6 separate regions of the Homo sapiens genome follow, and regions 2, 3, 4, 5 and 6 are each linked to region 1. Evidence: fine-mapped expression QTL. A gene starts in region 1. Each other region holds a variant in brackets. All regions are shown on one strand. Distances are between the middles of the regions. Region 1 holds the start of MIR646HG (MIR646 host gene). Region 2 holds the start of LINC02910 (long intergenic non-protein coding RNA 2910). Region 3 overlaps MIR646HG (MIR646 host gene). Region 4 holds the start of LOC729296 (a long non-coding RNA gene). Region 5 overlaps MIR646HG (MIR646 host gene). Region 6 overlaps LINC02910 (long intergenic non-protein coding RNA 2910).

What was found.
Region 2: its variant is fine-mapped to the expression of MIR646HG in whole blood (INTERVAL, PIP above 0.99).
Region 3: its variant is fine-mapped to the expression of MIR646HG in whole blood (TOPMed, PIP above 0.99).
Region 4: its variant is fine-mapped to the expression of MIR646HG in testis (GTEx, PIP above 0.99).
Region 5: its variant is fine-mapped to the expression of MIR646HG in whole blood (TOPMed, PIP above 0.99).
Region 6: its variant is fine-mapped to the expression of MIR646HG in whole blood (INTERVAL, PIP 0.98).

What each region holds. Positions count from the first base shown.
Region 1 is chr20:60,135,775-60,140,700 of GRCh38, reverse strand. It overlaps MIR646HG (MIR646 host gene), which reads right to left and starts at 2,209. Exons shown (of 5, transcript NR_046099.1): 1 at 2,057-2,209.
Region 2 is chr20:60,052,400-60,057,325 of GRCh38, reverse strand. LINC02910 (long intergenic non-protein coding RNA 2910) reads right to left here and starts at 1,401. Exons shown (of 4, transcript NR_161293.1): 1 at 1,318-1,401. The variant C/T (reference allele first, on the strand shown) is at 2,441.
Region 3 is chr20:60,319,295-60,324,220 of GRCh38, reverse strand. It overlaps MIR646HG (MIR646 host gene), which reads right to left. Exons shown (of 5, transcript NR_046099.1): 5 at 1,965-3,588. Among named protein-coding and RNA genes, the nearest start is that of MIR646, 13 kb to the right of the region's middle. The variant T/C (reference allele first, on the strand shown) is at 2,564.
Region 4 is chr20:60,085,755-60,090,680 of GRCh38, reverse strand. It overlaps LOC729296 (a long non-coding RNA gene), which reads right to left and starts at 2,995. Exons shown (of 5, transcript NR_109918.1): 1 at 2,681-2,995; 2 at 1,960-2,084. The variant C/G (reference allele first, on the strand shown) is at 2,667.
Region 5 is chr20:60,283,034-60,287,959 of GRCh38, reverse strand. All of the region lies in intron 3 of MIR646HG (MIR646 host gene), which reads right to left. It overlaps LOC105372698 (a long non-coding RNA gene), which reads right to left. Exons shown (of 2, transcript NR_171673.1): 2 at 686-3,483. Among named protein-coding and RNA genes, the nearest start is that of MIR646, 23 kb to the left of the region's middle. The variant C/T (reference allele first, on the strand shown) is at 2,693.
Region 6 is chr20:60,067,082-60,072,007 of GRCh38, reverse strand. It overlaps LINC02910 (long intergenic non-protein coding RNA 2910), which reads right to left. Exons shown (of 4, transcript NR_161293.1): 3 at 1,965-2,175; 4 at 1-1,020. Among named protein-coding and RNA genes, the nearest start is that of LINC02910, 14 kb to the right of the region's middle. The variant A/C (reference allele first, on the strand shown) is at 2,832.

The sequences.
Region 1 (4,926 bases):
ACCCTCCTGGTAACCTCGCCCTGGCAACCTTCATCCAATCCCAAACTCAGGGCCTCAATCCCGTGAACGGCCCACGTTCCACAGAACAGGCCAGGGGCTCAGATGTTTATCATAGACACAGAATCAATCTCCGGGTTGGCCACTCCTGGATTCCCTAGCACAGAACACACATTTAGGCGCATCTGCCATACAGGGTCATTCTAAGGGTATGCTTATTACTATCAGGTGCATTTACCCTACATTCCCCCCTCATGAACATTAAAATGTTGAGGTTTCTTGATGGAAATTTTTTGTCCATTCGTAATTTTGGTTTAATCATTGTTAGTTTTTGATCAAGCTCTGTGGGGCCTCTGTGGCATGTACAGTGCTGTGCTGGACAAGGCAGGGGACTAACAGAGTAACACACGTCCCCATCCCCTGCAGAGCCGGAGCCCTGCCCAGGAGAGAGAGAGGGTGTAGACAGCCTCATGACGATGCAGAATGGGGAACAACTGTGTCATAGCAAAGGACCACGCATGATGTTAGGGGTGTTTAAAGGGCAGAAAAGAAGTCTGTTCCAAGAGTCAGGGACCAGGGAGGCTTCACACAGGAGCTGGACACCAGAGCAGCTTCTGCTAGGGCCTCCTGGGAGACATAGTGATCTGGCCTCTCCAGGAGAATGCAATGTCCCACCTGACAACCATGCAAAGAAATGAATGGTGAAACAGACAGCAGGTCCCCTTTGCCTATTACACTAGCATTAAAATGTAGTGGACATACCTAGTGCTGGCAACAGTGTGATGAAATTGGCATTCTCATCTATTTCTGGAAGCATCTGGCAAACTGCCTACTGGGAAGATAAGCTTTTGGAAATCATCAGTCAACACGCGTGAAGCGCTATTGTCGATGTTTGTGTCATCGGCCCAGCAATCAGACATGTGGAAATCTGTCCTAACGGATGTTGTTGTTAGCAAAAGAAAAACAATATTCTCCACTGGGTTCATTTCCCAACAGCTGGAAGCAATACAGGCATCAGAGAATGGCCACCTGAATGAATACTAACTGCTCAGTGTTGAGTAGCCCTTAAAATAATTTTTCTGAAGAAATTCAGCCACCTGCAAACAAAAATCTTAAGGTATGTTAAATTAAAAATCATGTCTCAGAATTTTACTGAGGACAATTGCAAATACTCAACAAGTAATAAACCTTGGGCAAAGATACTGGAAGGAATTACAAAATAATAGTGCTATCATTAAGATGGTGTGGTTGGTTGTGGTTTTTATTACATATTTTCCCTGCTTTTCAAATGCGCTAAGATGTTCTTACAGATAACAGTTGGAGAATGCAAAATATTAGAGAGAGAGAAATGAGAATGAAAGGTCACCTCCTTATCGTTGAAGTGGTAATAAAAGTAGTCACAGGACCTTCTCATTGCCAGCAGCACTAGCCCTCATGTGAACTTTATTTTCATTCTTTTCTGTTGCTGAAAATTGGTATCCAAGGGCAGTTAAGTCTCAGGGGCATGGCTTGACCTCAGGCTGACCTCAGCCCAGCACCAGGCTGGATTTCTGAAGCTAAGCAACAGGTTCTGAGGTAGGTCAGAGAGGGTGGTCACAGCCTCACTTAAAGGAGAGCAAACTTGCTAAATAGATGGCGAGAACAAGCCACCTGCGGTGCACAAGCCGCATCCCAGGCTCGTGGTTAGACCATCCTTTAGCGAGGAGGTCAAAGAGCGAAGGAAAAATCCGCGAATTCATCCAAGTGCAGAAACCCAAGATGAGTGTCCTTGGGCTGACCTGCGCTCATTAGAATACTAAAGAACTGGGTGGAGATTTACGATGCTAACGAGACATGCGATGTGTGTACTAGCATGCACAACCACAGCACATGTGCCACCAGGAGACAGCCCAGAACATGCTTCACGGCAACACCCCTTCCCAGCCCTTCATGAATAATCATGTAAGACCCCCATAAAGGGGGTTTCCCCAGTGTCGGCCAGCACTGCCTCGCCTTTGAGCGGCCGCTCCGATCCGCTGGCAGAGTGCGCTTTCGCTGTGCGATCAACTCCCTTGCTTACCTTTACTTTGGACGTGCTCTCAAGTTCTTTTGTGTGGCGAAGTCAAGACCCTGAACCGGTCCACCAGCAACAGTTCTTTCGGAGTCCCTCAACCACAGGCCCTGAAAGCCGCTGAGTTAAGTCTTTAAACTGCGGGAGAGCCTGGGAGCATCTGAAACGCAAAAGGACTCCCAGTGGATAGGGAGGCAGCACCCTGACCGGAACCGGAAGAGGTTTGCCGGTGAGCCTGAGTCTCCACACACAGTGATCCGGGCACCCGGGCTGCCGTGTGGCAGGTGAAACCGCGTGTGGTGTGGATGTTTCTCCAGCTGTGTTCTGTCGAGCCCCTAAAAGTCTGGCCTGCATTGGAAGGGCCTCCCCAGTGTCCTCGTTTCTGTTCAAACAGAAAAGTTCTTATTTTCTGTATTTGTGGTTTTTGCTTCCTCATATAATTTCGGTTGCACAAAGCTAAAAAATATTTGAAAACCTCTACTTAATCGTATAACTAAATGCAACATTATCTTTTGCTTATTTAATAACTATTTTAATATTTATTTTCTATTTATATTAATAGTGATAATAAAAATATAGCTTGGAGTGAGAGAAAAGCTTTCCTCTCTGTTAACTATCACTGTATCATTTAACTACCACTAGCTATTCCTCACAACGGTTTCTAAAGTGTAAGCACCTGCCACCTCATTAGCCTCTAAGCTCCACAGTGCCAGGGACTCTTTGCCTTAGTCTCTGCTATGTGCTCAGAATACCCAGCACATACTAGGTTTGAACAAAATGCATTTTGGAGAGTGGATGCTGCTGCCACCTGGTGACAGCATACCCACATTTCATGCTTAGCACTTTGATTACTTAATGAAATTCATGAGGAATGGAATCAGAAAACCTAAGACATGCATCTGTGTGATAGCAATCTCACTTTCCTCACTTAGCTTTTTCTGTTTCCCTACTCTGCACAGATTGGAGACATCTGAGTTTTCTCTGCCCCCATCACCTGCACCTGCCCTGGTGGCATGCACTTGCACCTCCTCTGTCTGGTATTAGGTTGGTGCAAAAGTAATTTCTGTTTTTGCCATTACAACTGCATAAACTGCGATTACTTTTGCACCAACCTAATAATAGGGCTTGCCCCTCCAGAGGATAGAATCTTTGCTTGTCACCTTAGAACTTCTCACACAGAGCACTGCATTCATCAAACCCTGGTCTCAGCCATCCTCGGGGCACATGGAAGGTCATGCCCATAAATCAATGCCTCAGCCAACATCTGGTCTCCCCTTCTGCCATTCCCTGTGTCCCTGCCCTGGCACCAGGCATTTGCAGGTGCAGGGGGCAACATCATTTAGTTAGCTTCATCTGGGCAGGGAGGAGCATTATTAAACATGAGAGATAGCTGTTGGCTCATGGAAAAGATTAGTTTTAAGCTATTTAAGGCAAAGCAATAAAGGATGTGGTTTCCTCCTCTGACATGCTTCCTAATTTGTAGATTCATATGACATCACACTGGATTACAAAGCCACATTACTCTGATTGGTAATATTATGCTATCCTAATTCAGTTTGTATAATTATTTAATTTTTTAGGACTGCTCTCAAATATTAACATTGTGTTCGGTAGAGGCCAGAAAAAATTGGGAACATGCATCCACACACGTGGAGAAGCTTAATTGCTAGAATAATGCAGGGCAATTATTGTAATGAGAACAAAGCCTCATGTCTGGCATACACATGTGACTGTGTCCAGCCCAACTTCCACTGAAGTGACAGTCACTGGACTCGAAGCTCCTCAAGGACAGGGGCTGTGTCGCCTTCACAGACATGACTCATTGCCGGTGCTCAATCAGGGTTGAGCTGACTTGACTTGAAGCCAAATAAGGACAAAGAAAGGTCAGGCAGTCCTGAAAAAGCCAAGGGTCTGAGAGACAACACTCGCTGTTGTCCTCGCTGTTTAATTCTCTGAGGTCCATTAGGAAGTAGGTAGGAGCCATGTCATCATGGCCACTTGGGCCAATCGTCTGCACAGATGGGGAAGGCATCTGCCCCCACAGTGAACACTAGGCTTATCTGCCTCCTAAATCTCTCTCCAGGCTAACTTCCATGGTTATTCAAATCCCTCTATTAAATATTCAGACCTCCAGCCCCTGGACCTCTATGGTCCTCCTGACAAAGCTAGAGCTGTGATTTCTCTGCACCTCCATTCTTCATCTGCAAAATGGGGCCATAGAGTCTACTCCACTGGGTTGAGAAGCTACTGGAAACCAGGCTGCCAAGTGCCTGATGCAGTATCTGTCTTCAGCTGGCCTCCACACAAAGACAGTTTCCTCTTTTAAATTATATCTAGACTTTTAATCATTTTTTTACATTTTTATGGGTACACAGTAGGTGTATATATTTATGGGGAACATGAGATGTTTTGATACAGGCATGCAATGCACCATAATCACACTATGGAAAATGGAGTATCCATCTCCTCAAGCATTTGTCCTTTGTGTTACAAACAATCCAATTATATTCTTAGCTATTTTTAAATGTACAATTAAATTATCGTTGACTCTACTCACCCTATTGTACTATCAAACACTAGGTCTTATTCATCCCCATGTCCGTCCTCCTCACCCCCGCAACACTTCCCAGCCTCTAGTATCCATCCTTCTACCCTCTATCTCCATGAGTTCAATTGTTTGGATTTTTGGATCCCACAAATAAGTGAGAACATGTGATGTTTGTCTTTCTGTGCCTGGTTTATTTCACTTAAGATGATGACCTCCAATTCCATCCCTGTTGTTGCAAATGACAGGTTCTTATTCTTTTTTATGGCTGAATAGTACTCCATTGTGTAAAGTACCACATTTTGTCCTCTTATTGCTTTTCGTCACTGCTGAG
Region 2 (4,926 bases), 83 kb after region 1:
GAGTAAGGGACAATTATCTTTACTATCTACAAACAAGGATGTTCAGGCACAGAGAGGCTCAGTACATTGTGCAAAGTCACACAGCTACAGAGTTGTGAAGCCGAGATTGGAACTCAAGCAATAAGGCACTTTGATGGCAGGCACCTTAATGGGGGGTGGGGGAACACCCTTTACCAACAACCATGCAAATGGCCCAGGTGCTCCTGTGACCCCTGATCCCAGGGGCTCCACCAGAGCACCAGAGAGAGAGGGATGTGGGAAGAGCAGAGGACAGAAGAGGACACGTGCATCTAACCACTCGGAGGACAGGAGAAGGCACCCTAACCTTCTGAGCTGCCATCTTCCAATCAGGAGGAGGGGAGCACTGGATACATAATCTCAAGGCTTTCCCTACAGTTCTCTCAACAGGACAGACAGGCAGGGGTGCACAGTGGTTAGAGCACAGGCTTTTTGGTCAGACAGAACTGGGTTAAAGATCAGACACGTCCACTCACTCTCAATGAGTCCATATCTGTAAGCCTAAGCTTCCGTCCTCACACATGTTGATAAAAGAAAAAGAAAAAAAAAGGCCAAGTGCAAAGCTTTTAGCATTGTTTCTGGTTCAGGGTATGGACTTAATACTGTTTTCTATCATTATAACCACACTAAAGGCTCTGAGAAGTCCTGCAGGAAGGAAAACTACTTGTCTTTATCTCAGCCATCCCCAAGCTAGCTGCCCACAGAGCCACCATGGAGCCCACAGCTCTGTCACCCCACAGGGCCCATGTGCCTGGCCCATTCATGTTCCCTCACACGGGAGCCTCAGGCCCCAGTGGAAACAGACTCAGGAGACAAACCCAGGCCTCCTGCTCCCAGCTCCCCACTCTGTCCTTCTGCTTCTACATCCAACTACCCCCAAAGCAGTTTCTACAATCCATAAACAAAAGAATTCAGAGACAATTCTCCAGGGCTCCCAAGACGACATATTTCATCTGTGGCTTCTACAGTGCTTATTTGTCAGTTTTACAGACCAGAGGCAATTAAGAGTCTAAGGCCGAGAAGGCTGTTTTTAATAATTCTGTCATTATTCTCAATTTTCAGCACCACCACACATGAAAAACCCATTTCCAATTCCCTTAAAGGTGTTAAATGGTTTTTGCACTGTGTTGCAAAAGTTTGCCGTCCGCCAAACTGCTACAAAGTGGGCTTGTAGCGTCCGGTCCTGAGCTGTGGGAACGACTTGGTCGGGGCTGATCCGCTGGAGCCCAGCTCTTTCCCCAAGCGTTCAATTCCCAGCACATGCCGCGTGGGTCACTGTGGATTTCAGGGTGGACTCACCGCGCTGCTGGGTGTTGCAGTCCACGCGATTTCACAAGACTCCATGCAGGACACCTCCACCCGGCCCAGGCTCAGGCAGGATATGAACAGGAAACCACTGTTTCCTGCCGATCAACACCCAGGAACTGATGAAGTAACCCAGTGCCCAGCCCCTCTGACAGCCACAGAGCCAAGAAGAGGGAAGTGAGGTGGCATCCAAGGCAGCCCCTGAAAGAACTAAGCAAGGCAAGTTCAAGGGGTTCAGGGCTCTGCAGCAGCTGATGGGGAGCAGGGAGGAGCATTCCGTTTTCAGGGCATTGAAAGTCCTTGAAAGGAGAAAATTTTATAAGGAATGACAAGGCCTGGATGCAGAAGGTGGGAGACCCCTGCCCTTGATAACCGTCATAGTTACCAATGACAACTATGATAAAGAGATGACTTTCTGTGGCTCCCACTTGCTGCCCTCTGTGGTTCCAGGCACATCACAGAGAACTCTTCATTTTCATGAGGCCCCATAAGGACATCCCTATTACTATGATCCTTATCAATATCCTGATGTTACAAATGAGGGAACCAGGACACAGAGACGCTGAGGAACTTGTCTGAAGTTACATGGTGGAGACATAGCCTGGGACGCAGCAGTGAGAGGGACAGACGAGCCCTGCCCCTGTGCACCAAGCCATCTGCTGGGGACGCAGAAATCAAACAGCTCGTGGCTGCCCTTGTGCCCAGCGCTGTGGGCATGAGCGAGCTGCTTTGAAGAGACAGCGTGGTGACCTGCCCTGCTGGCCCAGGCAGCATCACACGGCAAGAAGGCGGGCTTTGAAGGGTTTTAAACAGAGTCGTGTTCCCACGTCTGCAGTGAGAGGGCTGCAAGCCTTTGTGTTTTTCACACGGTGTTACACAGCGTTGGGGTCCACGGACCTGCCTCGGAAGCTGCTCATGGGCAAATGGACGACCACGGGTGGGGAAGGAAATTTCCCCCAAACACACACATGCTTCACCCAGAGCAGCCAAGCTGTTTGTGTGTTTGTGTGTATTCACGTGTGTATGTGTGTGTGTGTGTCTTATGCCTAATGGTTCATTGAGTTTAAGGATCTCTCAGCTCCCTTGCAGCACAAATGTTTCATAATTTGGTGGTTAG[C/T]GCGCAGTGACCAGGCAATACAGGTTCATCAAAATGCACCAATGAGACAGAGACAGGAGAGGATGTTTTGGCAGCAGACAGACATCCAGGAGGCCTAGCACACCCCCATCCCCCGGCCCCAACCTCAGAGAGATAATCAGGGGAGCAAAGGGCATTAGTATGAAACGACCAAAGAGACTTAGCGAGCAACGTCAGACTCCCTGCAACACGCGTGCTGATGGGACAGAGGGGGAGTTATTTTTATACTTCAGAAATAACCAAGCATTCTGCATGCCCAAAGCCAGTTTGGGTTTTAAATACCTTTCATAATTTTTCTGACTATGGAGGTAATACATCCTCAGGGCATAAAATTTAGAAATTATAGAAGAGTATTTTTAAAAATCCAACCATTGAGCAATAACCATTATAAAAATCTTACTGTTTTCCTTTCTTGTCATTTATCTAGGCTCATACAGATATTTGGGGCTTTTTTCACAAAACTAGGAAAATGTTAAAATATATATTCTAATATTGTCTCGATTTTATTATTAGATTTATCATAACCATAAAAGATTTGAACACTTTTAACGACAGCGTATTATTCCATTTCCATGGAATTACTGTAATGAATCTCCTACTGTTGGGTTTCAGTTGCTTCCAAATTTGAATGTAAATAATTTGGGGGCAGTTCTCACTCCATCAATGGCAGACTAGGTTGAATACAGCCGAGGTTTTGCAGGCACACACTATGCCCAAATTAAAGCCACAGCCCAGGATGTTGGCCATGGAGAGATGATGCTTTCAACTGTATCAACTCTTGAAGCTGGTGAACCATGGCTTCTCCCCTTCAGGCGCTGGCAGACCTTCTCCTCACACTCTTGGCTCTTTGCTGGGCTGACAACTCCCTACTTGCCCTGCAGGCCTTCCCTGAGCTCTGGGGTCTTCTTTCTGCCCCCTTCCATAGCTCCCCGTGGCTGCCACATCTCAGCACTGACATCCTACGTGGCTCTTTGTCCACACCTAGCTCCCTAGACCATGCACCCCTTGTGAGCTAGGTCTTTGTCTTCCACATGGAAGTTCTCACTAAACACTTGAATAAAGGAATGAATAAACAAATGAATGAACAAACAATCTAACAAAGAAGGAGCACATGGGCTGACCTTGCAGGGCTCTCACGCCAAATCCTGGAGGCGCCTTCTGCAGCCGTTTCTGTCTCCCAGCCAGTCCACCTGTTGCTCGGGCTGCTACTCAGAAGTGGCGCGTACAGGAAGCACGTGCTTGTTTGTGCTGGCCCCATGTTTGTTTGCATTTAGGATCACGGAGTTTACTCAATTAATAAATAGAGTGGAGAGGGGGTACTGCCTCTGTTTGGCAGACAAAACAAACAGAGGAGAGGGGAAGATGTCCAGGGCAGATTTCTCCCGCTTTCAATCTTAAATAAATAACCAGTTTCCCGATGCTAATTTTTCCTCTTTATGATCTTGTCTATCTGTGCACAGACGATGAGGTCTGATCCCTTGTGGTCCCAAATGCCACGTGGCAGTGAGCTTCCAGGCCACGTCCCTATTGCGCCAGAAGAGCCCATGTGTGTCTTTGTGAGCATGTTCATAGTTAACCTTGTTGATCATTACATGAACGTGTTTAATCCTTACCACAAGCCTGGGAGATAGGAACTCTTACTGTCCAAATTGCACAGATGGGCAAGCCGAGACACAGAGAGGTAATGTAACTTGCTCAAGACCACACAGCCAGCAATGGCAGAGCCTGGATTTTAATCCTGACAATCTAACTTCAAAACCTATACCTGTGATCACCAGCTAGTCCTCAATAGCCAATGTGCTGATTTCTAAAGAAATTCCAGCACATTCCCGCCATATATAAGCAGCCTGTTATTCCCAGGGAATATAAATGCCTTGGGTTTAATTTAATGAAAGCTGTTATTGGAAAAGATACACCAAGATAATTAATTTCTTAAACAATGGAAATGAGGCTGCGGTTGTGTACAATTTTGTTTTTAACTGGAGGTCTCCCACCTCTGGAAGAGGGTATGCTAGAAAGCTGAGAATCCCAGGAAGAGAACTGGTAGGTGAGTCTGGAGGCTGCATGAGCCTCAGGGTCATGGAAGGTGTGCCAGTGTGTGGGTGCCAGACCCAGAAGAGGGTGCCAAGATCACCTGGAGCAGAGCATCCAGGGAGCTGGGCAAAGCTCTCAGAGATCTTTCCCTGCTTTGAAATGAGACAACCAATCCAGGGTATAAGTCCATGCTGGAGCCATGGCAAAGAAGAACTAGGACCCAGCCTGCCAGCCCCTTTTTGAGGCTGGGACTTCTTGTTACCTCTACAGGATAGTATGATAGAAGGCCCCCTGGCACAGGGCCAACTGGCATATAGTGGGTAACTTCTGCATGTTCGGAGGTTAGTCTTAGCCTTCTTACCCTTTATGATAGCACCCTGATCCCCCCGCCCCAACTTCCTATTGTGTGAATCCTGCTGGGTGGGACTCTCCAA
Region 3 (4,926 bases), 180 kb before region 1:
AGGTGGTCTCTGATCCAATGACTGGCATCCTTTTACAAAGAATAAAATTTGGACACAGAGCATCTCAGAAGGAAGATGACGTAAAGGAAGGTAGGTGAGAAGGTCAAGTGAGGACGGAAGCAGAGTACGGAGTGATGCATCCATAAGCCAAGGAACCCCAAGGATTGCTGCAGCCACCAGAAGCCAGAAGAGAGGCCAAGAAGTATCCTTTCCTGGAGCTTTTGGGGAGCTTGGTCCTGTTGATACCTTGATTTAAGATATATGACCCCCAGGGCCAGGTGTGGTGGCTTACGCCTGTAATCCCAGCACTTAGGGAGGCCAAGGGGGGGCAGATCACCTGAGGTCGGGAGTTTGAGACCAGCCTGACCAAAATGGAGAAACCTGTCTCTGCTAAAAATACAAAATTAGCTGGGCGTGGTGGCACATGCCTGTAATCCCAGCTACTCGGGAGGCTGAGGCAAGAGAATTGCTTGAACCCAGGAGGCAGAGGTTGCGGTGAGCCGAGATCATGCCGTTGCACTCCAGCCTGGACAACAAGAGCGAATCTCCATCTCAAACAAATAAAAAAAAGTTTTCTGACCCCCAGAACTATAAGAGAATGAATTCCTCTGGTTTTAAGCCACCTAGTTAGTGGCAATGTGTTATGGCAGCTCCGGGTAGCTAGTGCAGTGGGACACAGTGGTATGTGGATATGCAGGCATTTGGGAATCACAGTGTAGGTCACGTAGCCAGTAAGTGTCAGAATGGGAATCTGAGCCCAGATCTACACCCTCCGCAAGCCCAAGTCCTTAAGTGTTTGACTGTGTATCTTCTTAGAGAGGAGTGTTGAAGGAGAGGACTTGCGTCGTGCACTGAAAGTCAACAATATTCCAAGGTGGAGGCCGGCAAATTCTCTCTCAGTCTGGGACATTAAGGACACCTTGAGTTGCTTGGTCAAGTCTACATGGCACAGATGGGACCATCACTGTGGTGCCAATGAGCCCCACCTCCAAGTTCAGGGCACCTCACAACTTCCCACATCAAGTTCCCATCCAGAACTTCCCAGAGAACAAGAAGCCACCATGTTTCCACCTACAAGAGTTAGCTGCTGGGCAAAGTAGACCTCAAAGATGAGCAGAGGGCTGCCACTGAGACCGTCCTGGCACTGCTGGAACTGCTCCCAGGGGTTGTGAACCCCACAACCTCCTTTCCATGGAGTTCATTTTAAAAATTATATGTTAACCTTCATTAAAAAAAAAAAATCAGAGACAGTGCTTCTTTCTTAGTTTCTTTCTTCCTTCCTGTTTTGTTCCAGAAGACTTGGCTCTGGAGGTTGTTACTTAGTTTGGAAGGCAAGAGGAAGGTTAATTAGCTTTTGTGACCCAAGAGCTCGCAGGGAAGATGTCAAGCAATTCCCTAATTGCTCCTCAAAGTTCGATACGGTTGGAGGGGCAAGGTCCGGGAGAGAAGATGCTAAGCTGGTTGTTAGGTTGACTATGAATTCCACCCAGCATGGTGCGGGGGACATTTGCAGGGCATTGTTCTCTGTGAGGAGTCCAGATAAATAATTCATTCCTCTCTTGGGTCCCATCAGCTGGTGGCCTCCAGCCCAGCAAGCCATTGTGGATTTCAGGGCCAACCCGGGGCATTTCTTGGGGCTGAGACTCCCACTCAGTCATAGAGAGAATCCAGCCCCTACATCTGCATGGGTTGCATTCTGCTTCCTGAGCTCCTGAAAAACATAAACAGTGCATTTCTCTGCTTGGCAAAGGATACCAAGGCAGAGACTCAAGATATGTCAGCCATGGTCTTCCAAGTCCTCAAACCTCCAGACTGTGGTCTGCAAATGTGCCTCACCTGGGAGCTCCTTAGACAGAATGCAGAATCTCTGGCCCACCCCAGACAGGCTGAATCAGTATCTTTGGCATGGGGTCCAGCACTATGCATGTTCACAGGCTCTCCAGGTATTTTTTTTTTTTTTTTTTGAGATAGAGTTTCACTCTTGTTGCCCAGGCTGGAGCACAATGGCACGATCTCAGTTCACTGCAACCTCTGCCTCCTAGATTCAAGTGACTGTCCTGCCTCAGCCTCCCAAGTAGCTGGGATTACAGGCACTCACCACCACACCTGGCTAAATTTTGTACTTTTTAATAGACATAGGGTTTCTCTACTAAAAGAGCCAGGCTGGTCTTGAACTTCTGACCTCAGGTGATCCACGCGCCTCAGCCTCCCAAAGTGCTGTGATTACAGGCGTGAGCCACTGTGCCTAGCCTTATCCAGATAATTCTGATGCACACTAAGGTTTGACCAGTGCCCCTTAGGACCACAGCCCTTCTTGACTGTTAAAAACCTAGCAGAGAATAAATCCATTCTCTGCCCTCTCCCCCAGACTCTCAGTCAACCAAGACACCAGCTGGGGGATTCCGATGAGAAGCAAAGCCTGCATTAGATTCTCTTGCAGAAACTGATACTCACTGGTGATTTTCTTCAGCAGTTCCTGAAATCACTGAACAGGTGGATTTTTTCTTCCTGACTTGGCAGTATATCTTCCTCGATTCACTTACTGTTTAGAACATTTTGCTTG[T/C]TATGATTGCAAAGTCATTGTGGCAGGCAAAAATGCATTGCATGTCATTTTTCCTCATCTGCACATGGCTCTCAGGACATAAAGAGGATGTTAAAAAAAAAAAAAAAAAAAAAAGCAGGACACAAAGAATGGCCCTGCCACCATCTCCCTCAGTGGAGTCCTCTCTCTGGCCCCGGGAAGCCTCGCCAGGGGTGTTTCCCTTCACTGGGGCTATAAAATTTGCATCCTATTCATAATTACATGAAATCCCCCAAATGCACACTGGGGACAGCTGCTCCAGGGTCACATTGCCAAGGATGGCACAGAGCTAGCAACTACACCAAAAAGTCAAGCCATGGTCAGCTTGGGTGGAAAGCACCATGGGGTGAACATATTCTCCATGTGATGAGAAGTCACCTCTCCAGTCATATTCTAAGGCAAGAGTGGGAGCTGCCCATCACAGCCCAGATGTTGACCACTAGGGAGAGAAAGGGGCTTGATTCAGATGCGGTTCGTTTGGGGACACAGTGACAAGGCAGGAGCTCCTGGGGTCGCAGGGGTCGGGGAGAGGGGATAGGGTGTCTTTAGCTGATTGAAATCTCTTCTCATTTGACTGCAGGTGAAGTAGGATCAGAGGTGGATTCACTGTGAGGCCCTCATTTCCATGGGGGCTCCTTCCAAGACTAGGAGGGGCCCCAGTCATGTGTCCCTGTGGCCATAGCTTTGCAAAACTTGCTGATGGGGAGAGATTTTCACTGCAGTTGACTTCAGGCCACCATCTCTTTCTGCTCCAACTTCCCATCCCTAGGGTTTCCCTCACCTCAGGAGCTGTTAGAGGGGCTGCGGCTCTTCTGGAATGCACTTATTTAGGCTTGAGTGGCAGATTTGTACGAAGCCACTTTCACATCGAGTGCCATTGTGCTAGGTGTCCTGGGTCAGTGATGTCTCCAGGAACAACCCTGCTGCCCATGGAAATAGTGCTCCCAGTGTCCTGCCAGGATCCCGGGGCCAGATGAGCTTCTCATTGGTGCCCAGCACCAGAGGGTCTGGTGGAAGAGGAAAAGGAGCAAGGTTTGAAATGTATGGAGCCAGAAGCCAGTCTAAGAAAAATCTTCTTATCATCAGACACGCTATTATCAGGAGAGGATTCAGTTCTCATTATTACCTAGTCAAAATAAATGTTCTCCCTTGTAAGGAATAATTTGTAATGCATATACACAAATGTAAATGAATCTTTTTTTTTTATGGGATGAAAAAGAATCTAAGGACGGGTGCAGTGGCTCATGCCTGTAATCCCAGCACTTTGGGAGGCCGAGGTGGGTGGATCACTTGAGGCCAGGATTTTGAGACCAGCCTGGCCAACGTGGTGAAATCCTGCCACTACTAAAAATGCAAAAATTAGCTGGGTGTTGTGTGTACACCTGTAATCCCAGCTACTCAGCTACTTGGGTGGCTGAGGCACAAGAATCACTTGAACCCTGGAGGTAGAGGTTGCAGTGAGCTGATATTGCTCCACTGCACTCCAGGCTGGGTGACAGAGCAAGACTGTCTCAAAAAAAGAAAGAAAAAGAATACATCAAAATTCTTGTGTCTATAGGACAAAACCTTACCCAATGCCACATGAGTCTGTCTGTGTGACCATCTGCACGTTGCATGCCACCAACTATCCATAACTTTAAAAAAAAGCTTTATCTGACCACACTAGAGGAATTATCTTTCTGTCCTGTTAAAAGCAATACCAAACATTTTTGTCATATGAAAAGGCAAAATGTATGCAAGAGAAAAATGTAGGAAAACGTACAATACAATCAGGTAACTATTAAAATATTCAATACTGTATAGTTTTGTGACGTACAGAAATTTAGCAGCTTTTAAGAATTTAAATAAACCCCATTCCTAATTTTATATGTGTCATTTTGTATGTTGTTTTCTTTAATTTTGAGCCCCACACAGCCTGGATCTGAAAGGGCTCATTCATCCATGCGTTTGTTCAGCAGATGCTTACGGAGCCACCACTGCAGGCACAGGCAGCAACGCAGCCAGAAAGAAAGCTGGTGCTGGTGTCAAGGGGTGAACAGCCAGGTGGGGGACATGATAGTCAGCATGTAAACAATCACATTCACGGGAAGCTGCAGAGCTGCAAGGTGGAGGGAGCAACAGAACCGCAAGGAGGAAGGGGAAAGGGTACTTGCAATGGGCTGGTCAGGAGGACCTCTGAGGAGCTGATGCTTAAGCAGAGACAAGGGTAATGGGAAGGGAACAAGCAGGCCAGGAGCTGAGGAAACAGTGTGCAGGGGCCACGACACATGCAAACGTCCTGAGACTGTGCTGGGGCGGCTGGCGGGAGGTTATCATGTTCCAAAAAGAAGAGCAAGGCCAATGGG
Region 4 (4,926 bases), 50 kb after region 1:
TCTCACCTTGGGAATGTTCTCCTCGCTGAGCTAGCAGCAGCAATAAATGATCTGATTTGCGATCTGTCCCTTCGCTCTCGGGACTGTAAATGCAGCTTTAGTAAGTGATGCACAGGGCCGGGCTGTTCCTAGCCTCCCAAGTAAGAAGCTACCCAAGGCTGTAATTTCACTTTATCTCTCTCCCATTAAAAGGCAATTGAAAGTGAACCGAGGAGAATGCGCGGTGGCAGAGGGGCCACACTGGAACTGCAGGCTTGACAGACAGTATTGGCATCTTTGATGAAGATTCAGCAAATGTTAGGAGAATTGCCAATATACACCCATTCTGATAAACTCAGGCCATCCTCAGGAGCAGAGGAGAATGTTTCCAAGTCAGTGAAAATCCCCAAGAAGAGGAGGAGGATGAAGGGCAGGGACTCTGCCTTCAGGGTCGATTTGCTGGGGCACCTGGCTTCTCTCTTTGTGACCTTGAGTAATTAATTAATACCTGACTGGGGCTCCATTTTCTCATCTGTGACTTGAGGATAAAGACAGTGCCCATGTACCCTTTTGGGAGGAGCAAATTTAAAATGCACTTAAGATGCTTCACACAGTCAACGGAAATTGTTAATTGCATAGTAAACATTAGCAATACATAAGTCCATTCTTATTGATGATAACAGTGCGTGTCTTCTATCAGGCCAGTGAGCACTTTCTTTTTGTTCAGTCTAGTTTCTGTGAAAACGGTGAGGCTGGTCAAGTCTAGTGGCCCTTTTTGCACCTTTTTTGCACCTTTTTGCATTTCTCCCCCTTTCCTCAGATTCCAGGCCTATGACACACTGTTGTCCAGTCCCTAAGAAATGCAACCATCAATGAATTTGTTCCTTGTAAGATACGTGTGGCTAAGTGCAAGCATTTCATTTTAAAAAGGGCATCTAAGAAGAGCTGTGTGGTGGACAACGGGGCACCATCGAAGCTGAGCGGGGGTGGCAGCAGGAGCACTCACACGTTCCTGCCATTGTAGATTGTAGGGCTGCTGACTGGGGAAGGAAGGAGAGCCCCCCTCTCGTTTTACAGGAGAGGGTGGGAGATGAGGTCCACAGAAGGAAGTGGATTGCTCAAGGTCAGTTAACAAATTAACGCGAGATGTGGGCACAGGACCAGTTTCACCTGAGAGCATCGCATGCCCTTCCCACATCATCCCATTGCCTGGGTGACTCCTACTGTGAGGAAGTGAACAATATCTGTTAAGACTCTTCTGCTGCTACAGCGGCTCAGGCCTGTAATCCCAGCACTTTGGGAGGCTGAGGTGGGCGGATCACAAGGTCAGGAGCTCAAGACCAGTCTGGCCAACATGGTGAAACCCCGTCTCTACTAAAAATACAAAAATTAGCTGGGCATGGTGGCGTGTGCCTGTAATCCCAGCTACTCAGGAGTCTGAGGCAGGAGAATTGCTCGAATCAGGACCTGAAAGGCGGAGGTTGCAGTGAGCTGAAATTGCACCACTGCACTCCAGCCTGGGCTACAGAGCAAGACTCCATCAAAAAAAAAAAAAAAAAAAAAAAAAAAGACTCTTCTGTTACAGGTGATAAAATCCCATGCAAACTGGCTACTGGCTTCTGTTTAAAAAGGAAGTTATTTGCTTGCATATCAGCAAAGTTAGGGAGAGGAGCTCTGCCTTCAGAACCAGCCTTGTTCTGGTAGCATTGCAGGGACGCTGCTCTGCCTCAGCTCCTTGTCACCATGTCACAACATGGAAGTGGACAGAGAGAGGCAGCCCCTACTCAATTCAACCAAAACACTCAAAACACTCAGAGCTCAGTCCCATTGCTCATGATTGGCTTCATTAACCCACATGCCCTACCCTGAATCAGTGGCTGCAAAGAGGGCAGTGCGGGCCTTTGATTAACAGGCCTGGGTCACCTTCTGGCCATATGGAGGGTCCATGAGTCAAGGTCTATTCAGGGAAACAGAACCCACCTAGGTCTTCCTTGCCTTCCAGCTTTTGGGTTGGTCAAGCTGGGGTGGAGAAGGCCTTTTGTTTCCAACCTCCCCACCTCATTGGCCTCTCTGCTCTTCCATGGCTGGTGTCATAACCTCTAGAACTAAAGAAGAAATGAGAGGAGGGTGACATTGCCAGGACACAGACGCCAAGGCCATCCTGCTGAAGGTGGAGTCAAGTCAGGGGTGTGCTGGCTGGAGCGGGGAAGAAAGGGGGAGGGGCTGTGCCACGGGAGTGGTGAGGGAAACACATCAGTGCACGAGACCCCCATCCCAGGCCACGGGAGAGAGGAGCAAACACCCTGGCTTCTGCCCTCCTCCCTCCTTCCGTCAGTGTTCCACGTCTTCCCAGAGGCCTGTCCTGGCAGCACCCACCCACCCACCCACCCACACAGAGGGCTTGCCCAGGGCGAGAACTGCACGCAGAGGTCTGGTAGCCGCTGTAGGACCCAAGGCTCTCCTTGCTCCTCCATGGCTCTGAGCTCCCCTCTCTAGGCATACTCAGGTCAGAAAAGCAGTGAGAGCTAAACCTGCTGCCCTGTGGTAGCTCCCCATCCCGGATGGGCTGGCTGTAGCCCCGAGCTTTATTCCTCCCTTAATCCCTGCAGCCAAGAGCAAGGCTGTCACCACAGGAAGCTGTCCCTGTCCCAAGAAAAGAGACAGACTCAGCGGTTCAGAGCAGGGCT[C/G]TGCAGCCTCATACCTGGGTTTGTCTCAGATCTGTCACTTTCTCATCAAGTGAACATGAGTAAGATATTAAACAGCACTGGGCCTCAGCTTCCCCGCGGGTAAAATGGGCGGCAGAATACAGCACCGGGCCTCGGCTTTCCCGCGGGTAAAACGGGCGGCAGGATACGGCATCGGGCCTCGGCGTCTCCGCGGGTAAAACGGGCGGCAGGATACGGCGCCGGGCCTCGGCTTCCTCGCGGGTAAAACGGGCGGCAGGATACGGCGCCGGGCCTCGACTTTCCCGCGGGTAAAACGGCCACAGGATACGGCGCCGGGCCTCGGCTTCCCCGCGGGCAAAACGGGCGGCACGATACGGCGCCGGGCCTCGGCTTCCTCGCGGGTAAAACGGGCGGCAGGATACGGCGCCGGGCCTCGGCTTCCCCGCGGGCAAAACGGGCGGCAGGATGCGGCGCCGGGCCTCGGCTTCCCCGCGGGCAAAACGGGCGGCAGGGTACGGCATCGGGCCTCGGCTTCCCCGCGGGCAAAACGGGCGGCAGGATGCGGCGCCGGGCCTCGGCGTCCCCGCGGGCAAAATGGGAGGCAGAATATCTGCGGCGCTGCTGCAAGGCCCGATGAGATAACCAATATCAGCTCCGACCTTGGCACCCTAGCAAAGAGGGTGCCCACAGCAAGGAAGGGCCATTCTCATCTGAACACACTTGGTCCAGGAGGAAGCATGGAGCCATCCAGGGAAGTCCTAAAAACCAGGTGTGCCCTCATTTATTCAATCTCATCATAAAATCCCATTAAATCAGTCAACAAATATCAACTGAGGACCTACCTACTAGGTGCTACAGCCTGCCCCAGGCTACACACTAGGTTACGTAAGTGACCACCAGGACAACAGAAATAACACTCCAGCATCACAGCTCTTCATGACTGATCCCTTTTTATGAGTCAAAACAAGCCTGGGGGGATGGTTGAGGTACTGTGAAAATGCATTATTACTGCCCCAGGCATCCAATTACATATATAAGTTGCATGTTCTAATTAAATTTTCCTAATGTAATGTCGGCTTTGCCCGCTGCTATTAATTATTGAAGCCACGTTCAGCTTAGGTGGATTTTCCTCTCCCGCCTCACCTTCCATTCACTCTTCACTCCTGGCTGCCCTTCGGCTGGCTGCAAACTCCCTGAGGATGGGTCCTCTTTGAGCAAAGGCACCCACCGTGAGGCTCCCCTGTTGGACAGAGGAGGAGTCACCCATAGGAGGAGAAGCAAGCATCACCAGGCTGCTTCGTAACGAACACGTTAAGCACAATGATGGTAATGGAAGGTACTCCAAAACATCAGTGCACTTCCCTGCACTCTCTCCCAAGAGGCTTGTTTGCTCCCTTCTCACCATCACCCACTCCCTGACCTAAAAAGGTGGTAACTACTCCCTCAGAAGGTTGAAGACTGTGGTCAGATCCCAAGACGCAAGCATGCAGGTGGATCTGGCAGAGGGACGTTCCCAAGCCCCTGAAATCAGACTTTAAAATGTGCTGTGGAGGAAGGAAAGGTGGGGACCGGAGAAAGAACATGGAACCAGGCCTGGAGCTTTTTCTGCTGGTGGCCATCCTGGGAGCTGCCCCAAAGCAGCAAGCCTAGCCCTTCGCAAAGGCTCATCCTGCAGCAATGCACCTGCCATGCCCCAGACTCTGCCATGGCTCTCACCCACAACCAGCCCTCCTTTTGTGGTAAGCATCCAAGAGCTGCATAAGACCGATATGTTCCTGAGCCCTGGACCGTGCTTGAGGTGTGCCAACAAGCATAGCTGGAATGAATTCCTATTCACAACATTAGGAAGAAAGACATGCCACATTCTTTATTTTCTTTAAGCCAAAGTTCATCTGCAAATAACCGCCACTATCCAAGAGACAGCAAATTCAACTGCATTCATTATTACTCCCCCGACCCCATGGTATCTTTAAGGGCCTGGACTCACACGTAGTGGACACCCCACAGAGATGGGGCCACGAGGGCGGGACCTCAGCCCAAGTCTTCTACTCTACATGCTGGTCCCCTGAGCTCAAGCTGTCACTCAGCTCCAGGGAAAGGGCTCAGGGCGCCCCTAGCTGCAGTCCATTCTAGTACAGAGTGACCCACAGGACCCTCTCAGCTGCTCTCCAGGCCATGGGAAATAGTGCCTAACTGCCCAACCACCCACAGCAGCTTCTCATCAGGCATGCTGCAGCCTAGCCCCATTCCTGTCCTCAGCAAGAGAGGACGCCCACTGCCA
Region 5 (4,926 bases), 150 kb before region 1:
CTCTGCCGAAATACCCTCTTCCAGAAACCTGAGAGCACAGTGCTGCTGCAAAGACCCCGAAAGGTGGCCCCAGTGGGGACAGGTCAGTGGCCGCCTAATCCCCAGAACAGGAGCAGCCGCGATGGGCACTGCACCTAGAGAGATACCAGGCCCCCAGTTGCTGGGCCATGCTGAGGTTTAGTCACTGGACAAAAGATCTAAATGTGAAATCCCAGGCCAGAAGCAGGACCCGACTGGGGGCCACAGAAGCAGAGAGTGGGGTCAGAGGGAGAACTTCTGGAATGGACTTCAGTAAGAAGTTCCAAACACCAGTGCTGCAAATATCCTGGGGCCAGGAATCCCGTGGTTGGCCTAAGGGGCCAGAGACAGGGAGACAGGCAAGCTACAACCACAGCCAGTCCCACAACCCAGAAACAGTGACTCATTCACTCTTTCCTTTATTCTTCTCTCTCCTCCTTCCTCCCTCCTTCCACCTCCACTTCTTCACTCTCTGTCTCTCAGCTTTCTTCCTCCTTCTCTCCCTCTGTCCATACCTCCTCCTCCTCCTTAACCTCCTCCTCCTTTCCTCTCCCTCCCTCTAATCCTCCTCCCGTTAACAGTGGAGGGTCTTGACTACGAGTTTTCCAAGTCATTGGCATTTTGAACAAAGTATTGGACAAAATGCACAAACAAAGCAATAAAAGAATGAAGCAACAAAACCACAGATTTATTGAAATGAAAGTACATTCCACAAAGTGGGAGCAGTCTCGACCAAGTGGCTCAAGATCACAGGTTACAAAATTTTCTGGGGTTTAAATACCTTCTAGAGGTGTCCCATTGGTTACTTGGTTTACATTCTATGTAAATGAAGGAGTGGCCTGTGACCAGTCTGATTGGTTTCAGAAGGTGACCAATCGGAGGCTGAAGTGAACTTAGAAAGTTATACCCTACGCAAACATCTGACTGGTTGTGGGAGGGGACCAATCAGAGGCTGAAGTAAAGTTACAAAGTTACACCCCTATGCAAATGAAAACTAGGCTCGTGTCCACTCTGATTGGTTGTGAGAGGGAAGCCATCAGAGGTACTTTCCATTTCTCATCTGCCATGCAGAAAGGGGGTGGGGATTGCAAAGGGAGTAGCTTCTATTCTTTTGTTATGTGGAAAGTTGGGTTTTTCCTTTTGATTTAGTTCTAGGAAGTCAATGTGAATTGGCCTTAGGTTCCCTGCCCCCAGTACCTATTTTCCTGCCTCATTTCTCCCCCATGAGAGATGTGATCCCCATAAAGTCTTCACGGCAGGCAGAGAGACTGACGGTCTTTCTTCTGTAACTGCTTCATCCTGAATTGGGTGCAGTCCCTACCTATTGGGGATCACAGAAATCCTGCCCTGCTCTGTCTAGTGGAGAGAGGCTAGCTTCTTGATGTCCAGGGGTGGTGTCTTTACCTGGAAGCCTTGCTGCATCATTATCTGCAGCTTGATGGTCTCCAGGCAAGAGGAAATGAATTTGGTTAAGAGATTTAACAAACAACATCCGAAAACCAAGGGAAGTATCATCATTAATGAAGGGCCAGCTAGAGGAAGGAGTCATGAACCCCAAACTTAGCATTTTTGATCAGGAGTGCCATGACTTGGACAGCTGTTGTCATATATCAGAGGCCCAGTCAGCTAATTTTTCTGGGTAGCATTCCTTACAAATCCTGATTGGTTGACATAAAAGCAGCATTCTTCTTCTAGGAAAAAGACATAAGCCACCTTTTTTAGCATTAGGGAGATCCAGTCCCCTCCTATTTTATAAAGTGACTGCTGCCAAGAAGTCTATCTGATTTTGTAAGGTGACGATACTTTAGGCAATGCCATCCAAGCTTTTCATAAAATCCTTGGACAAGCATTGATAATAGGATAGGGAAGTTGCAAGCCCGCTAACCTCTGTTCCTATTCCAGCTGTTACGCCTAGCCCTACCAAAAGGGTATGAGTTGACTGGTTAATCTGTGCCTGGCAGTTGCAGTCAAAGGTAAAATGAGGAATTGGTTATTGGGAGCTATATTAATTGCCAGGGCTAAATAAACAAGTGTACAGGTTCCAGTCCAGTTGGCTGGTAAACATAAGTAGGAACCAGTTCCACGCAGGAAAAAAAGCTCCTTGTTGTTCAAGACAAAAATTGTTTTCTATGATGAACATGTGGGTTAGCTTGCCATTTTTGTTTTTCCAAGTAGTTAAGGTCCCTGCTAAGATGGCCCCAGTTAAAGGCTGGAAAGGACCTTGGGAAGTATCCCGAGTTGCCCCAGCAGTTCTGTTTTCCGAATGGAGTTAGTTACACTTAGTGTCCTCCAACAATCACCCAAAGCTATTTTCATACCGGCAAATCAAAAGGCAACCAGATATCTGAGGATCAGTACAGTCTTCCCAATGGAAAATGTGAACACAGCTAGTGGGCCTACCTTGACAGTACTTAGACTGTATATCCTTTAAAGTGTCCTTAACTCAGAATGATTTCCATGAAAACCATACAGGTTTTCTAAATAATGCTGATTGGGTAACTGCATAGCTTACATGATTATGTGAGGGATTAATTTCCAGGGTGCAGTTGTGTCGATGACTTTTCAAGGTTTCCAGGGCCTGACAAAAATTGTGGCTTCTCTTAATATAAAGTGGCACCTGGAATTTTAGTTCTGTGTACATTGATATTGGCCACCAAATGGGTTTCTAATGGGA[C/T]GTAACCCCAGAAAGTTTGTTCTGATGGGACTGGAGGAGGTTTACTACTCATACTGTCATTCTAACCCTTGTCATTTACATAATTTTGAAGTCATATAAGTCATCCAGGCTCATTAATTTGAAGGGAGTTCCACCCTTATAGTTAGGAATGATAGGTTATTTTCTCAAAGGCCCAAGATTGGGCTGGGATTGAGATGGCAAAGTATTGGGATGATGATGGAGATAAACAAAGCCAACAGTCCTCTGCCAGAGTGGGGCTGGTGGTATTTAACATTCTTTCCATTAAATGTAAAGTTCTTAATAAATACCCAGAATCCATTAACTGATGGAGAGCTAAAGAGAAGCTGTTGTAAAATAAAGTTGATTCCCATATGCCTGGTCCCAGTATACACAGGCTATGGGTGACTATTATGGAACACAAAAAATACATATTTGTTATTTTGTTCTATAGAATGGGAACTTTGGGGTAGGGGTGGTGATGGATACCTATCCTGTCAGGAATGATTGTTACAAAAATGGATTACAACATTTTACTTTGCTTAATTATTAGAAAGGAAGTGATTCTATCTGTTTGGAGGAAAGAAATTAATTGTAAAAATATAACAATGGCTACTATTATCCAGCCTACAGCAACTATGCAACAAAGACACCAAGGAAATTTGGGAAGTATTTACTTATCTTTTGGCTGTCTTTTAAACAGGTACTTCAGGTCTTCCACAGGTTCATAGGTGTACTGGCTGATGACAGCTTCAGATTCCAAGTCCAGGGCTTCAGGTGTCTCAGGCTTGACCCTGGAAAGATGTATCCAACCATCTAATCCTATTACTTTGACCACAGAAGGCATGACCAGTCCCACTGAAAATGGTCCCTTCCATTTGGTTTGCAATTTTTGAGCAGGTGATCCCTCCTTCCATGTTTCAACAAGTACATTATCTCCTGGCCTGATTTTGGGTTGCTGGTTAGTTCCTGGTGTCGGCAGTCTTTGAGTTCCAAACTTTTGTATAGCCTGCTGAAATTGTCCTAGGCTAACTAAGTATTTTATTAGCCTGGCCATTTCTGGATCAGTAATAAATCATTAGTTTAATATGGCCTTCCATATAACATTTCATGTAGGTTCATATTAATTTTTGCTCTAGGGGAACTATGGATCCTTAAGAGGGCTATGGGCAGATAAGCTGACCCAAGTTTGTGATGTTTCCTGACATAGCTTAGCTAAAACCTGTTTTAGAGTTTGATTAGCTCTTTCCACTTTTCTGGAGGATTGAGGTCTCCATGATGAATGTAAATGGTATTTGATTCCGAGAGCCTTAGCAACCCCTTGAGCTTTCTAGGAGACAAAAGACAGGCTGTTATCACTTTGGCAGCTTTAGGGTACCCCATACTGAGGGATTATTTCCTTTAAGAGAATCTTTATAACTTCATTAGCCTTCTCTGTTCCGGTAAGGTAAGTTTCAACCCAGCCAATAAATAATAAAGGTGTCTACTAGTACTAGCAAAAACTTGTATCCTTTGCAAGCTAGCATATGGGTGAAGTATAATTACCAGTTTTCCTTTTTAACTTTAGCCAATATGTTCACACACAGAATCTCTTTTATAATTAATTTTTAATAAACCTTACACAACTTGTTCAAGCCTCTAGATTTTTCCTATCTCACTTAAAACAATCCTTTAACAAAACTTAGGCAAAAATCCACATTCTCATGACTTTTATCAAATGTATATTCTACTTTTCCTACACAAGTCCTCTTCATGACTTACACAGACCATCTATGACATGCTTGGACTCTCTGACTTGTCCTAAACATCCCTTGTTTTAAACAACCAGGCATTTTACTTTAGGACAAGCATTTACCATACAAGATCCTTTCTCATACAAAGTTATTGTCTCTACAACCTTTCCTACCAAAAACACATCTTCATACACATAATGTTCTTCACATCTCTCTCCCCTATTTACTGGTTCCTTCCTACCTTTTTTAATAAATAACCCCTTTTTAAAGTCCATAATTTGCAGCCAAAAGACACATGAAAAAATGCTCATCATCACTGGCCATCGGAGAAATGCAAATCAAAACCACAATGAGATACCATCTCACACCAGTTAGAATGGCAATCATTAAAAAGTCAGGAAACAACAGGTGCTGGAGAGGATGTGGAGAAATAGGAACACTTTTACACTGTTGGTGGGACTGTAAACTAGTTCAACCATTGTGGAAGTCAGTGTGGCGATTCCT
Region 6 (4,926 bases), 69 kb after region 1:
AAATTTAACAACATACACATTTACAACATCTCTGAATGGCTTTAAACTTGATAAGCAAAACTAAAGACAACAACAATTCCATAATTCTGATCACAAAAGCTAATATTCACAATATACAAAGTGCTCTAACAAATCAATAAGAAAAGTTAACATATGAAGAGGAACATTGACGAAGGATAGGAACAGATGTTTCATAAAAGAATACATGCAAAAGGCTAATGGGCACGTTCAAGGTCATTATCAATCAAATAAAAATTAAATATCATTTTTTGCCTATCAGATTGAACAAGAATTAAAATGTAGTTGGAAACCAGTCATAGTAAGCATTTAGGAAAATGGGCATTTTCACACAGTCTTGGAGGGAAAGTAAAGTGAGCATCATTTCCGGAAGGTAGTTTGACATTATTGTATAAAAATGTAAAATGTTCATGCCTTTGAACCCAGCAATACAATTTGGGGAATTTATTCTAAGGAGATCATTTCAGAAGTGGGAAAAATGCATGCCTGAGAAAACTTTCTATTCCCACCAGTGAGTGACTAAGAAAAATGCAGTATGTGCTTGAATAAGTGCTCTGCAGAAATTAAACACGATGGTGAAATATATTGATTGATTGGTAATATTACCTTTGACATTTTCATTAAGCAAAAAAGGCAGGTGCCAGCATATAATGTGATGTCAATTACATAAAATTATACACATGTATCTTTATTTGTATGTATATATGTCAAAGGATTTTTCACTCTAGCTCTTTCCTAAAACCATCGTAGCCCCCAAAGTTTGCATGGTTCATTCTATCTCATTGTCGAGAAGATTGTCTCAAAACAGACAACACCTGGAGCTCTTTTAGCACATGGTAGTCATTATCAGCATCTGAAAGTACCTGTGTGTTTCTTCGTTTTCTCAATGACTGCTGTGCAGCCTCTCCCATGAGAAGAGACACCATGGAGGTCAGGGCTGGCTGGTCCACCTGCAGAGCCTAGCACGGACCTGGCCCAAAGTCCCTGCTTGGTAAATACCTGCTGGATGAATGCACGGTGCTGTGAGACCAGTGTTTTTCACAGCACACTCTCTAGAAGAAATGCCAACCTGTGTTATGGACTAAGGTGTCCCACGGGCAAGTAGGTTTTGGAAACATGGCATTGGATCAAGCCAATCCAAGGGTTTATTTGGTGCAGAACTTTGCAGAGCCTTTAATACCCAAATGCACATTGTGACTGTCCAAGAGTTTCCCAGCTCTCTTGACTGCAGAAGTCCCTCTATCTTCAGCCCCTTGGAGCGTCTTGTGTCATGGGACAGTGTGGGATGGACTATGTTCAGAAGAATATTCAGCAATGCATTAAATTGGGGGCCGAGATTAGAGCTGATCTCCAATTTGTCATTGTACTGTCTGTGTTGTTTGAAGTGTTGACACTGAGTGAGCACATATCATTTCATAAATATATCAGTTTTTCAAGATAAAAGAATAAACATTAAAAATGCACTTATTGTCTGAATCTCAAAATCAAGTTTATTTTCCAAAACCATGAATTGCACTGAAGTTGTTTTGAAAGAAGAAAGGCTGGTTTGAACCAAATAGAAACACAGAAAGTAGCAGAACCAGGTCTTCTGTATTCAAATTCTACTTTCACCATATACTTAATGAGCATCTTTGGGGAAATCATGCAAGATCATAGTCTGTAAAACGAACCCCCTCGTAAGTTGTGAGGATTCAGACTAAAAATCTAATAAGCCCCAATAAATACTAGCTTTTTCTATATTAGCACTGATAAATCTAAATTAAGTTGTGCCATCTAAATATGTTTGCATTCCACTTATATCAGTCTGCTCAAGTCATGGTCTCCTATACCCGAACTCTCCAGAGCCTAGAGCTGCCTCCATTTGCTAAGAAGTCAACAGACAAAGGTTTCGGGTGGGTCCCATGTTTACTCCTGTTCACTGTCAGAAAGTTGTGTGCTGGACTCACCTTCAGCCTGTGGCTGTGCCCGTAGCCGTCTGCCTGCCAATAAGGGCTGTGCTGAAACAGGGCAACCATCAGAACCCTGATGGGTTCTTCCAGGGCTGGCCCCAGAAGAGCCTCTGCTGGGACGAATGCTGAGAAGCCAGTTCTCACAGCTGGGTGTTCCTTTTGTTTATGGAGTGGTTATTGCAGTAACATCTGGATTCCTTAACCAACACTACGGAAACGCAAAGATTATGTTTAGCTGCCTGGTGTATTTCAAGGGACGTAGCTTTTATTCTGCATGATCAGGAAGTAATTAGCAGCTTAAACTTGATGCCTTCACTCAGCGTTGATTCCACGCCTCTCTTTCAGCAAGGAAAGCACTGGAATTCATAATTAGTAAATTCCCAGTGTCTACCCCAAATCCTTAGGGTAGGTGCAAACAGAAGACCTTTCTGTCCTTCCTTTGAGTAATTTACAACTTGAGCTGCCTTTTTCATGGGGCCCCATTTCACTGGGAAAGGTGAAATGTAAAAACTAACCAGCAGCCTGATTATTCAGCAACCTTTACCAAAACCCAGTCATGGCTACTGTCCACCAAGCAGCGATGGGATATATCTGGGGGTGGGGAAGTGGGGAGAATCAACCAGGAAGAGAGATTGAGCTTCAAGCGTAGCGTGGAATGGAAGAATTCAGGCTTGAGATTGGATTAATCTGTCTGGATCCTATTTCCACTGCGTGACCTCCATTTCCATCTAGAATTTGTGCTCTCCTCATCTTCAAAGTGGGGGAAGTGACAGTACTGACCTTACCATGCTATTTGGGAGGTCAATAAGATAGCACACACAAGAGGCTTTGCACCAAGCTGGGCACAGAGTGTCACACTTACCT[A/C]GTGGCTTTACTTCTGAGGAACGTGGCACATGGCATTTCCACTGAACAGATAAGCACGGGCTCAGCAACTGGGCCGTTGGAGGGTTGGGAGGGAAGCCCTGCAGCCTTCTGGGAGAGTTCCCTGTGTCAGCTCTGGGTCTGAGCAGGCACTCCTCCACCTTGTGATTATTAACTGAATGTTTGCACACACATTTCTCTTCATATGTAATGGTCCATGGTTTTATACATTTAAAAAATATTTTTAAAAACAAAGCTCAGGGAGCTGAAGTGACTTGCCCAAGGTCACACAGAGAACTGGAAGGCAACGTGCATTTGGAACCCGTTTCTCGAAGTGTCACCACTTCTCATGGCAGCCCCAGGCACAGTCTCCTCCTGGGTTGGAATTCTCCATTCCCACACATCACTTTCTTTCTACATGTGCACACACAGGCACACAACACACACATGCACATGTACACGCAAACACACACGTGTGCACACACACACATGCATGCATACACAAATGCCAGCACACAGTAAGGGTTTAGTAATGGCAGCACCGATTTCATTGCTGACATAATGACCCAAGGACAGTCTTAACAGAACGATTGCCTCATCTGTGTGATGGGGACAAACCTGGGAAGCACCTTCAGGACTCCGTGGAGATTAAATGACAGAGGGCACTCACAACACTTAGAATAGGGCCTGGTACCTAACGCAGGCACAATTAATGGTTGTTATTATTATTGCTATTGTTAATATTAGACTTCTTTTGACTTATTTTCAAACCAAGACATGTCAAATTCTCTCCATCTCACTCTTTGGAATCTGCGTGTTTTCTCTGAGCAGAGAAGAAATCTTGCCAAGCAATGCTTTTGTTCCTGGTCTGTAGAAAACCCAGCCCTAAGCTGGGCTTTGCACCTCTTCAGCAAAGCCTTCTCTGCCTAAGTCGGGACCCCATGCCCCTCCTCATACAAAAGCTGCTACCAACCAGTGAGACCATCCCGAGGTAATACAGCTCCTGAGAACCGCCAGATCCCCAAAGTGGATTCTTCCAGCTTTCTCCAAATAGAAAGGTTTTTAACATGTTTTAAAACTGAAACTCGTTAGTTTTAAACCCCAAAGTGTGATTGTACACATTTATTTCCCTGGAATTATTTTTGAGATCGGAAAAAATACAGTTTTCCTTCTTGAGGAAAATCAAATGACATGTGCACTGACTTTCTCCAAGTAACACAACCTCAGCCCTATAATTAATATCACCACCTTCCACAGCCTCATAATTAAACATGAGATGCACAGGACTGGGAGGAAGTCACGGAAAGGCAGGAGGTAAATCACCAGGCTGGTCTCTGCCACCCATTTCTTGGGAGCCCATAGGAAGGAGGGAGTTGGCATGGGGAACAAGGGTGGCCCTGAAGCAGGCTGGAGGTCACCTGCGCCCACGCAATCATTGATTTCCCTTGGTGGCCCATTGTCCCAGGGCTGTCTGGAGCATGAGGCCAGCAGTGCCTACGAATGGCTGTGGAGTCTTTGCGCGCTGCTTGACATGTACACTGCCGGGCCGACCAAGACGCAGACGCTCCAGCCCATGGGCCAACCTAACCTGAAAGGAGATGGAGGGTTTGTCCTGAGTCTATGCCTGCTGTTCTCACTGAACATGAGTTTCGAGAAACACCTATGCAGGGATGATCTGAAGGAAACTGCAGAGTTTATTCCGTTGGTGTTCTCCCTGCTTGTCATCTCCTCCTGCCACGGACCTCGGGCTGTGTGGCTCTTCCCCCTCCCCCCCTCCTCCCAGAAATGCCCACCCAGCATCCCTCCTCCTGGCAGTGCCCACCCAGCGTCCCTCCTCCCAGTAGTACATACCCTCCTCCCAGCAGCACCCACTCAGCATCCCTCCTACCCTCTCCAGCTGTGCAGTTCTCCTCCCTCCCCACTCTTCCTAGTGTCTTTCCTGCCTCCTCTGTTCCCCACTCTCCTGCAGGTGGTGGGAGCCACAGGACTGGTCAGGCAAATGGGCCAAGAACAGAAGTGAGCCTGTGGCTGCCAGGCTGATAACAGCTAGTGTGTCTCCATTTTCTCCTCTTTGGCAAACCTCATAGGCCACATATTC